Homo sapiens: one gene and its partner. The protein of the gene in region 1 interacts with the protein of each later gene in a pairwise test. Each region holds a gene or a part of one and is shown on either strand. Other genes may lie near its edges.

The links.
Region 2: the proteins of TRIM3 (region 1) and ASL interact in a two-hybrid assay, tested with the Homo sapiens proteins (one large-scale study listed by BioGRID and IntAct).

What each region holds. Positions count from the first base shown.
Region 1 is NC_000011.10:6,452,596-6,457,707, reverse strand, and holds part of TRIM3 (tripartite motif-containing protein 3), read left to right. Parts: coding exon 1-12; intron 13-231; coding exon 232-412; intron 413-678; coding exon 679-1,411; intron 1,412-1,532; coding exon 1,533-1,636; intron 1,637-5,112.
Region 2 is NC_000007.14:66,082,319-66,085,818, forward strand, and holds part of ASL (argininosuccinate lyase), read left to right. Parts: intron 1-49; coding exon 50-133; intron 134-561; coding exon 562-618; intron 619-758; coding exon 759-856; intron 857-3,500.

The DNA.
Region 1 (5,112 bases):
TGTGCGTGGCCGGTAGGCACTGGGCAGGGTCCTGGGCTGGTGGGGCCACAGGGATGGTGTCTTAGCTCGGGCGGGGAGGGGAATAAAGGGTCTGGGAAGGGCAGAGATGGAAGTCTCAGGGAGGTCTCAGGAAGGAGATCTCCATGAGGGCAGCAGTAGGTTCCCCAGGGAGAAGGGAAAGTTCGGCAAAGCCACCCTCAGCAACTCTGGAATGAGATATTCCCCCTCCAGATTGCCACAGCTGTCCGCAGCAATTGCCTTAGTCGGGGGCATCAGCCAGCAGCTGCAGGAGCGCAAGGCAGAGGCCCTGGCCCAGATCAGTGCAGCGTTCGAGGACCTGGAGCAAGCACTGCAGCAGCGCAAGCAGGCTCTGGTCAGCGACCTGGAGACCATTTGTGGGGCCAAACAGAAGGTGTGTCTTGTGTTCACCCTTTCCTACCATCGTCCATTGTGATGGTGTTATTGCCTCCATTGTTCCTCTGTCTTCCACACCAGCTCCCCATTCCCCAGCCTAGATATTCTGCCTCCTGACATGCCCTCGGTAGGTGCTGTGGGCATCTGTGTCCTCTGTCCACAGGCACCCTCTTGTATTTTATGCCACAGTGCTACAACTTCAGTAATCACAGAGACTCCCCCTGTGCCAGTCTGCTCACCCACTCCTCCCCTACCCCTCATCAGGTGTTGCAAAGCCAGCTGGACACACTGCGCCAGGGTCAGGAACACATCGGCAGTAGCTGCAGCTTTGCAGAGCAGGCACTGCGCCTGGGCTCGGCCCCGGAGGTGTTGCTGGTGCGCAAGCACATGCGAGAGCGGCTGGCTGCATTGGCGGCACAGGCCTTCCCGGAGCGGCCACATGAGAATGCACAGCTGGAACTGGTCCTTGAGGTGGACGGTCTGCGGCGATCGGTGCTCAATCTGGGCGCACTGCTCACCACGAGCGCCACTGCACACGAAACGGTGGCCACGGGAGAGGGCCTGCGCCAGGCGCTAGTGGGCCAGCCTGCCTCGCTCACTGTCACTACCAAAGACAAGGACGGGCGGTTGGTGCGCACAGGCAGCGCTGAGCTGCGTGCAGAGATCACCGGCCCGGACGGCACGCGCCTTCCGGTGCCAGTGGTGGACCACAAGAATGGCACATATGAGCTAGTGTACACAGCGCGCACGGAAGGCGAGCTGCTCCTCTCGGTGCTGCTCTACGGACAGCCAGTGCGCGGCAGCCCCTTCCGCGTGCGTGCCCTGCGTCCGGGGGACCTGCCACCTTCCCCGGACGATGTGAAGCGCCGTGTCAAGTCCCCTGGCGGCCCCGGCAGCCATGTGCGCCAGAAGGCAGTGCGTAGGCCCAGCTCCATGTACAGCACAGGCGGCAAACGAAAGGACAACCCAATTGAGGATGAGCTCGTCTTCCGTGTTGGTACAGACAGCCGAGGGCAGAGCCAGATGGGCCAGGCTCAGGTAGTGGGTGGGGAGGGAAGGGAGGTTCAAGATGACCTCTGAATGAATTATTTTGTTTTCCCTCCTGTCCCTTCCCACAGGCAGTCGTGGAAGGGAGAAAGGTGAATTCACCAATTTACAAGGTGTGTCCGCAGCCAGCAGCGGCCGCATCGTGGTAGCAGACAGCAACAACCAGTGTATTCAGGTAAGCACCTTTACCGCTCTCCTCCACCACCAAAATAAGAGTTTTCAAGCTACAGGCTACTGAAAAGATAGAATGTACAGGTCACCTCCTGGAAGATGGAACCCTACAGATAGTACCGTTCCTTAAGAGCAGTGAATCAAAGGATCACCCCTTACGCACCCACCAGCCACCCCATTCCCATAGGCCACAACTGTAACCAGCACCTTCAGTCAGAAACCAGAGTTTACTATGCTTGTAGCCTCTACTTTGTAGGCCATGGCTTAGGGCAGGTCAGCTCCTGGACTGCAAAGATCTGGCTCATTCCTCCTTTCCTTCTGCCTCTCCTTGAGCCTCTTACTTTCTCCCTTTTTCTCCTGGTGGCCTGCCCTCCGTGTCTTCCAACATGCATGCCTGGCTCCTGAATGTATGTAGTCTGTCTGGAGTCTCTGCAGTTATCAGGTTGGCTAGACAGTTGCATAGGGGTATCTTGGCCAAAGGGGGTATCTTTCAGTGGCTAGAAGTTGTAGCAGGTGGTCCTCCCACTGCCTCTCCCATAACCTCATACACCTGATTATGGCATCAACCGCACTGAATGAACATGGTTTCTGCTGCACTGTGAGCTCCTTTTCAAAGCCAGGAAATGTGCCTTTTTTTCCCTCTGTTTCTTGTAGTAAAAGCTCAGAGCCTAGTACAGTGGGCACCAGGGTAGTTGACACAGCAGAGCAGTTAAAAGCTCAGGCTCTGAAACCAGACACCTGAGCTTGAATCCTAGCTCTGTCACATACTAACAAGTCACATGACCTCTTTGAGCTTCAGTTAACTCATGTGTAAAATTAGGAAAAGTATATCTGATAGGGTTGCGGGGAGTGTTAAATGATGTACTATACTTGACATCTAGTGAAACTTCTGATGTTAGCTATTGTTAAAAATATCATCGTCCAGGTGGAGGCTGTAAACAAAGGCAAGCAGGTGGGAAAGTGCTGGAGGAGGTGGTTCAGGGAACTGGAAGGAGCCCAGCAGGCCTGGAGGTAGATTACTATTAGAAGCCAGGGGTAGCTGAGGTCAGATTGTAATTGGTTTTGGAGATGGAGTGTGGAATTTTGATTTTATCCTATAGGGGATTGTTTCTAACTACCATGCACTTTACTTCTTCGAAACATTTTACTGGGTAGCAAAACTTTTCGCTGAAGATCCTTACTTCTAAACACCTATACGTTTAAACTTCCTGACCCTGCTTGAGTACTCATGTCATCGATCCAGCTCTGCTAAGGTCCTTTCCCTCAGTGACGGCTACTCTCTGACCCCTGCTTTTCACCTAACAGTCTAAAAGTGCAAGGGACTCTTCTGTGGCCATATTCCCAGTTCTGTCCAGTCGTCCTTTACTCCTACCCTATTTCTAAGAGCAGAGGAATGGAGAGGCCCTGTGCAGCACAGGAAGGCATTTGGGCCCAGCCTGGATAGTGAGGAGGGGATTGCGGGGGAGTAATGAGGTGGTGCTCAGTTCCCTACTCAGTTACACCTTCCAGCTCCTTTCCAACTCCCTAGGCTGGGAATGCTTCCTGGCATAAAAGTTGAGATTTGGGACCCCTTCTCTGTTGTGCACACACACAGGTGTGCTCACTGCTCACATGCACAGAAAAACAAGTGCCACTTTGTCTGTCCTGGTGAGGGGGCTGAACTTCCTCATAGTTTTTTTTTTTTTTTTTGAGACAGGGTCTCTGTTGTCCAGGCTGGAGTACAGTGCTATGATCACAGCTCACTGCAGCCTTGACCTCCTGTGCTCAAGCAATCCTCCTACTTCAGCCTCCCGAGTAGCTGGGACTACAGGCGCATGCCACTATACCTGGCTAATTTATTTTATTTTATTTTTATTTTTAGTAAAGACGGGGTTTCACTATATTGTTTGGGCTGGTCTGGAACTCCTAGGCTCAAGCTATCCTCCTGCCTTGGCCTCTGAAAGTGCTGGGATTACAGGCATGAGCCACTGCACCTGGCCTCCCCATTGTTTCAGAGTGGGGAATTGAGAGGGAACACCTGGTATAGCTCCACTCTCTTCCAAACACCTGCTACTTCTATAGCAGTCCTCCTCTTGCTTCTACTTCCACCTGCCCTCTATGTCGCCACTGCTAGGAGCCTGGCTCAGATTTCTAAGTTGAATTTCTGCTTCTCTTACTCTGGAGTCCTTAGGGCTGGCATGGGCTGGGCTCCCTGATGAGGTCTGATCCCCCTCCTCCTCTCAGTACATGGGGATTGGGGTCCTCACGACATGACCGTTTTCTCTTTTGGACACTTCTATGGTGGAGGATGAGGCAGACCTCACTGAGTGGAACCAGCATCAGTTGACAGAAGACAAAAAACATTTTGTGATTCTGAATTAATAATTTGATTTGTATATATTATGTCCTTGTGTAATTGTCTAAGCTTCCAGTTTTATCAGCTCTTCTGTGAAAACTCCCTCATTCCCTTAGGCAGAATGTTAAATCACATTCTTCTCAGTTCCCTCAGCCTTTTGCTATAGTACTTTTCATACTTTACTGGAATCACTGGTTTGTTTTTGTTTTTGTCTGGTTTTGTTTTGTTTTATTTTGGTTTAAGTCTTTCTCCCCCACTAGACTGTGAGATCCCTGAAGTCAGGGATCTACTTTCAGATACCATGGTATAGGAGAGAGATGTTAAGGACCAAACTAGGACACCAGCAGATTCTAGAGATATTAAGGAAGCAAGAATGGCAGATTTTGCTAAATCGTCAAATGTCAAGAATGGCAGGACTTTGTGGACTGGGTAGATGGTGTTGCCATTCAGGAGCAGGCCCAGGTTTAAGTTGATGAATTCACTTTTGCAGATGTTTGAGATAGCTATGCGGCATTCAAGTGGAGATGTCCAGTTCAGGTCTGAGATTGAGCTGGGGAGTTCATTCATTTGTTGAATGCCTACTATGTGCCAAATGCCATATCAGTGCTGCAAGTGCAGCAGCAAACAAAACAGATGCAGTCCTTATGCCATGCGAGGCTTACATCCTTAGAAGGGGACACCGATATTTAACAGTTATTTAGCTGCAAAGTGATAATTGTTATGAAGAGAGCTGTAAAGCATATATCCTGGTGACCTAAGTTTATATGTGCATATTGATTTGGTAGGGCGGAGGGTGGTACTTGGTCATTAGTCTTCTCTGAAAAAGTGACCTGGAAATTCTAAGAATGGAAAGATGAGTAAGAGTTGGCCAGGTGTCAGGGGTGGGATAGGCTGGGACTGGAAGAACAAGACATCCCAAAGCCTCATCAGTATTGAGCCAGAACCTGAGCTGCTCAAACTGGAGGGGCATTACCTCACCGCTAAACTGTACCTTTTAGTGCCCCCTCACTTCTACTATTTAGCTCGTGGAGCTCATGGTATCTCCCTTCTCATACTGATGAGTGCTGTCCTGCCACAGGGGACCACTGCAGAACCCAAGAGCTGTGCTGGTCAGCCAGAGAAGAGCTTAGTAGAAGGTCCACATT
Region 2 (3,500 bases), on another chromosome or scaffold:
CTGCTGATGCCTGCTCACCTGACCCCGGCATTGCTGCTACCCACTACAGGTGGCTGAGGAGTGGGCCCAGGGCACCTTCAAACTGAACTCCAATGATGAGGACATCCACACAGCCAATGAGCGCCGCCTGAAGGTACGACCCCTGGAGCCCCACCGCTTTCCTTGCCTCCCCTCTCCACCTTGCCCAGGGCCACTTTGAGCATTAGCACCATTCTGTTTACTTCGCCATTGGCAGACAGCATGTGAGACCTCAGGACATGAGCCAGGCACCCTGGCTCATGCCTATAATCCTAGCACTTTGGGAGGCTGAGGTGGGAGGATTGCTTGAGACCAGGAGTTCGAGACCAGCCTGGGCAACATAATGAGGTCCCACAGCTACAAAAATTAAAAAAAGAAAAGAAAAAAAGAACAGGCCTCAGCAGAAATGGCGAGAGATTTGGGGAGGACCCGGAGCCCTGGGGTATGGAGGTAGGTTGGCAGGGCTGATGAGGAAAACTGCCCTGCCTGGGTTGACTCCTCTGGGGGTATAGACCGTGACCCTGGGTCTCCCTTCACCTCCAGGAGCTCATTGGTGCAACGGCAGGGAAGCTGCACACGGGACGGAGCCGGAATGACCAGGTGCTTTAGCCCCTCCACCCCCTGCTCCGTGTTGTCCCAACCTTGAGGAGCCCAGGGGGCAGTTAGAGTTCTGCAGCGGTCCTGGCTCCTCAGGGAAGCAACACATCGGCCTCCCTGAGCACCATCTCCTCCTTGCACAGGTGGTCACAGACCTCAGGCTGTGGATGCGGCAGACCTGCTCCACGCTCTCGGGCCTCCTCTGGGAGCTCATTAGGACCATGGTGGATCGGGCAGAGGCGTGAGTCCTACAGGGACACCCAGGGGGCAGACAGAGGTGTGATGGAAGCCTGAACAGGAGACCTAGGGGGCAGGGGTGAACAGCGTGGGGGTGCCAGGCCCTGGGGGACAGGGGCATCCCAGAACTCCAGGATCGAGGCAGAGCAGCCAGGAGTGGGCCATTTCCTGCAGGCCCCAATACTCCCATGCCAGTCTAGCTCAGCAGGCAGAGAAGACTAACCCTTCGTGGGGCTGGGTGCGGTGGCTCACGCCTGTAATCTCAGCACTTTGGGAGGCCGAGGTGGGTGGATCACCTGAGGTCAGGAGTTCGAGACCAGCCTGGCCAACATGGGAAAACTCTGTCTCTACTAAAAATACAAAAATTAGGCAATGTGGTGGTGTGCGCCTGTAATCCCAGCTACTCGGGAGCCTGAGGCAGAAGAACTGCTTGAACCCGGGAGGAGGAGGTTGCAATGAGCCGAGATCGCGCCATTGCACTCCAGCCTGGGCTACAGAGCGAGACTCCTGTCTCAAAAAAAAAGAAAAAAAAAAAAGAAAACTCACCATTTGCAGATTTGAAGGCAGGAAGCTAAGCCAAGCACAGCTAGCTTGGCTGTGCCTGGAGCAGCCAGAGTCACTCCCCACACTGCCTGTCCCCCAGATCCCCCATCCTAAGCTTCGCCTCCCCATCCAGCCCATCTGGCAAAAGACAGAGCCAAAGGCTGCCTCCTGCTGGCCTCATTTCAGGCTTTGGCTTCTGGGACCTGGTGTCTTTGGGACTGGATTTGTTCCTTGCAGACCTGGACGAAGAGCTGCTGAGAAGTCTCCATGTGTTGTCAGAGACCCCTCCTCTTCCTCAACTCCCTGTGACCCCTGTTGTGCAGACTTGGGGGAAAACAAGGGCACAAGAATTGTCACCCAGCAGGTGGTGTGGGGCTGCTAGGAGGAACAGGGAGTGTCTGCTACTGAGTTCAGGGTTTCTTTAATTTTTTGTTGTTGTTGTTTGTTGTTGTTTTTTTTTTTTTGAGACAGGGTTTTGCTCTGTCACCTAGTCTGGAGTGTAGTGGCGCTATCTGAGCTAACTGCAAACTCTGCCTCCTGGGTTCAAGTGATTCTAGTGCCTCAGCCTCCCAAGTAGCTGAGATTACAGGTGTGCACCACCATGTCCAGCTAATTTTTGTATTTTTTTCAGTAGAGATGGGTTTTGCCATGTTGACCAGGCTGGTCTTGAACTCCTGAGCTCAGGTGATCTGCCCGCGTCGGCCTGCCAAAGTGCTAGGATTACACCCATAAGCCACTGCGCTCAGCTTAATTTTTAAATTTTTAACTTTTTAAATTGTCTTTAGAGATGAGATCCTGCTCTGTCACCTAGGCTGGAGTGCAATGGCTTGGTAATAGCTCACTGCAGTCTCAAACTCCTGGACTCAAATGATCCTCCCACCTCAGCTTTCTGAGTAGCTAGGACCACAGGTGTGCACCACCTGTGAGACAGAGTCTTGCTCTGTTGCCCAGGCTGGAGTGCAGTGGCGTGATCTCCACTCACTGCAACCTCTGCCTCCCAGGTTCACGCCATTCTCCTGCCTCAGCCTCCCGAGTAGCTGGGAGTACAGGTGCCCACCACCACGCCCGGCTAATTTTTTGTATTTTTAGTAGAGACGGGGTTTCACCATGTTAGCCAGGATGGTCTCAATCTCCCGACCTCATGATCCACCCACCTCGGACTCTCAAAGTGCTGGGATTACAGGTGTGAGCCACCGTGCCCAGCCGCGAATTCTTTAAATTTTTTGTAGAAACAGGGTCTCACTATGTGGCTCAGGCTGGTCTCAAACTCCCGGCCTTAAGTGATCCTTCCCTCTTGGCCTCCCAAAGTGCTGGGATTAAAGACTTGAGCCACCGTGCCTGGCCTTGAGTACAGAATTTCTTCATGGGGTGATGAAAATGTTCTAAAATTGGTTGTGGTGATGGTTGTACAGTAAAGTGTAAACTTTAAATGAGTAAATTGTGAATGATATCTCAGTAAAGCTGGTTTATTTAAAACAACAGGCCAGGTGCTGTGGCTCACGCCTGTAATCCCAGCACTTTGGAAGGCTGAGGCGGGTGAATCACCTGAGGTCAAGAGTTCGAGACCAGCCTGGCCAACATGGTGAAACCCCATCTCTACTAAAAATACACAAAATTAGCTGGGTGTGATGGTGGGCACCTGTAGTCCCAGCTACTTGGGAGGCAGGAGAATCTCTTGGACCTGGGAGGTGGAGGTTGTAGTGAGCCGAGATCACGCCACTGCATTCCAGCCTGGGCAACAAGAGCGAAACTCTTTCTCAAAAACAACAACAACAAAAAAACAGGCCAGGTATGGTGGCTCATATCTGTAATCCCAGCCCTTTGGGAGGCCAAGGCAGGAGGACTGCCTGAAACCAGGAGTTTCAGACCACTCTGGGCAACATAGCAAGACCCCATCTTTTTTTTTTTTTTTGAGACGGAGTCTCGCTCTGTCGCCCAGGCTGAAGTGCAATGGTGCAATCTCAACTCACTGCAAGCTCTGCCTCCTGGGTTCATGCCATTCTCCTGCCTCAGCCCTCCTGAGTAGCTGGAACTACAGGCGCCCACCACTACGCCCGGCTAATTTTTTGTATTTTTAGTATAGATGGGGTTTCACCGTGTTAGCC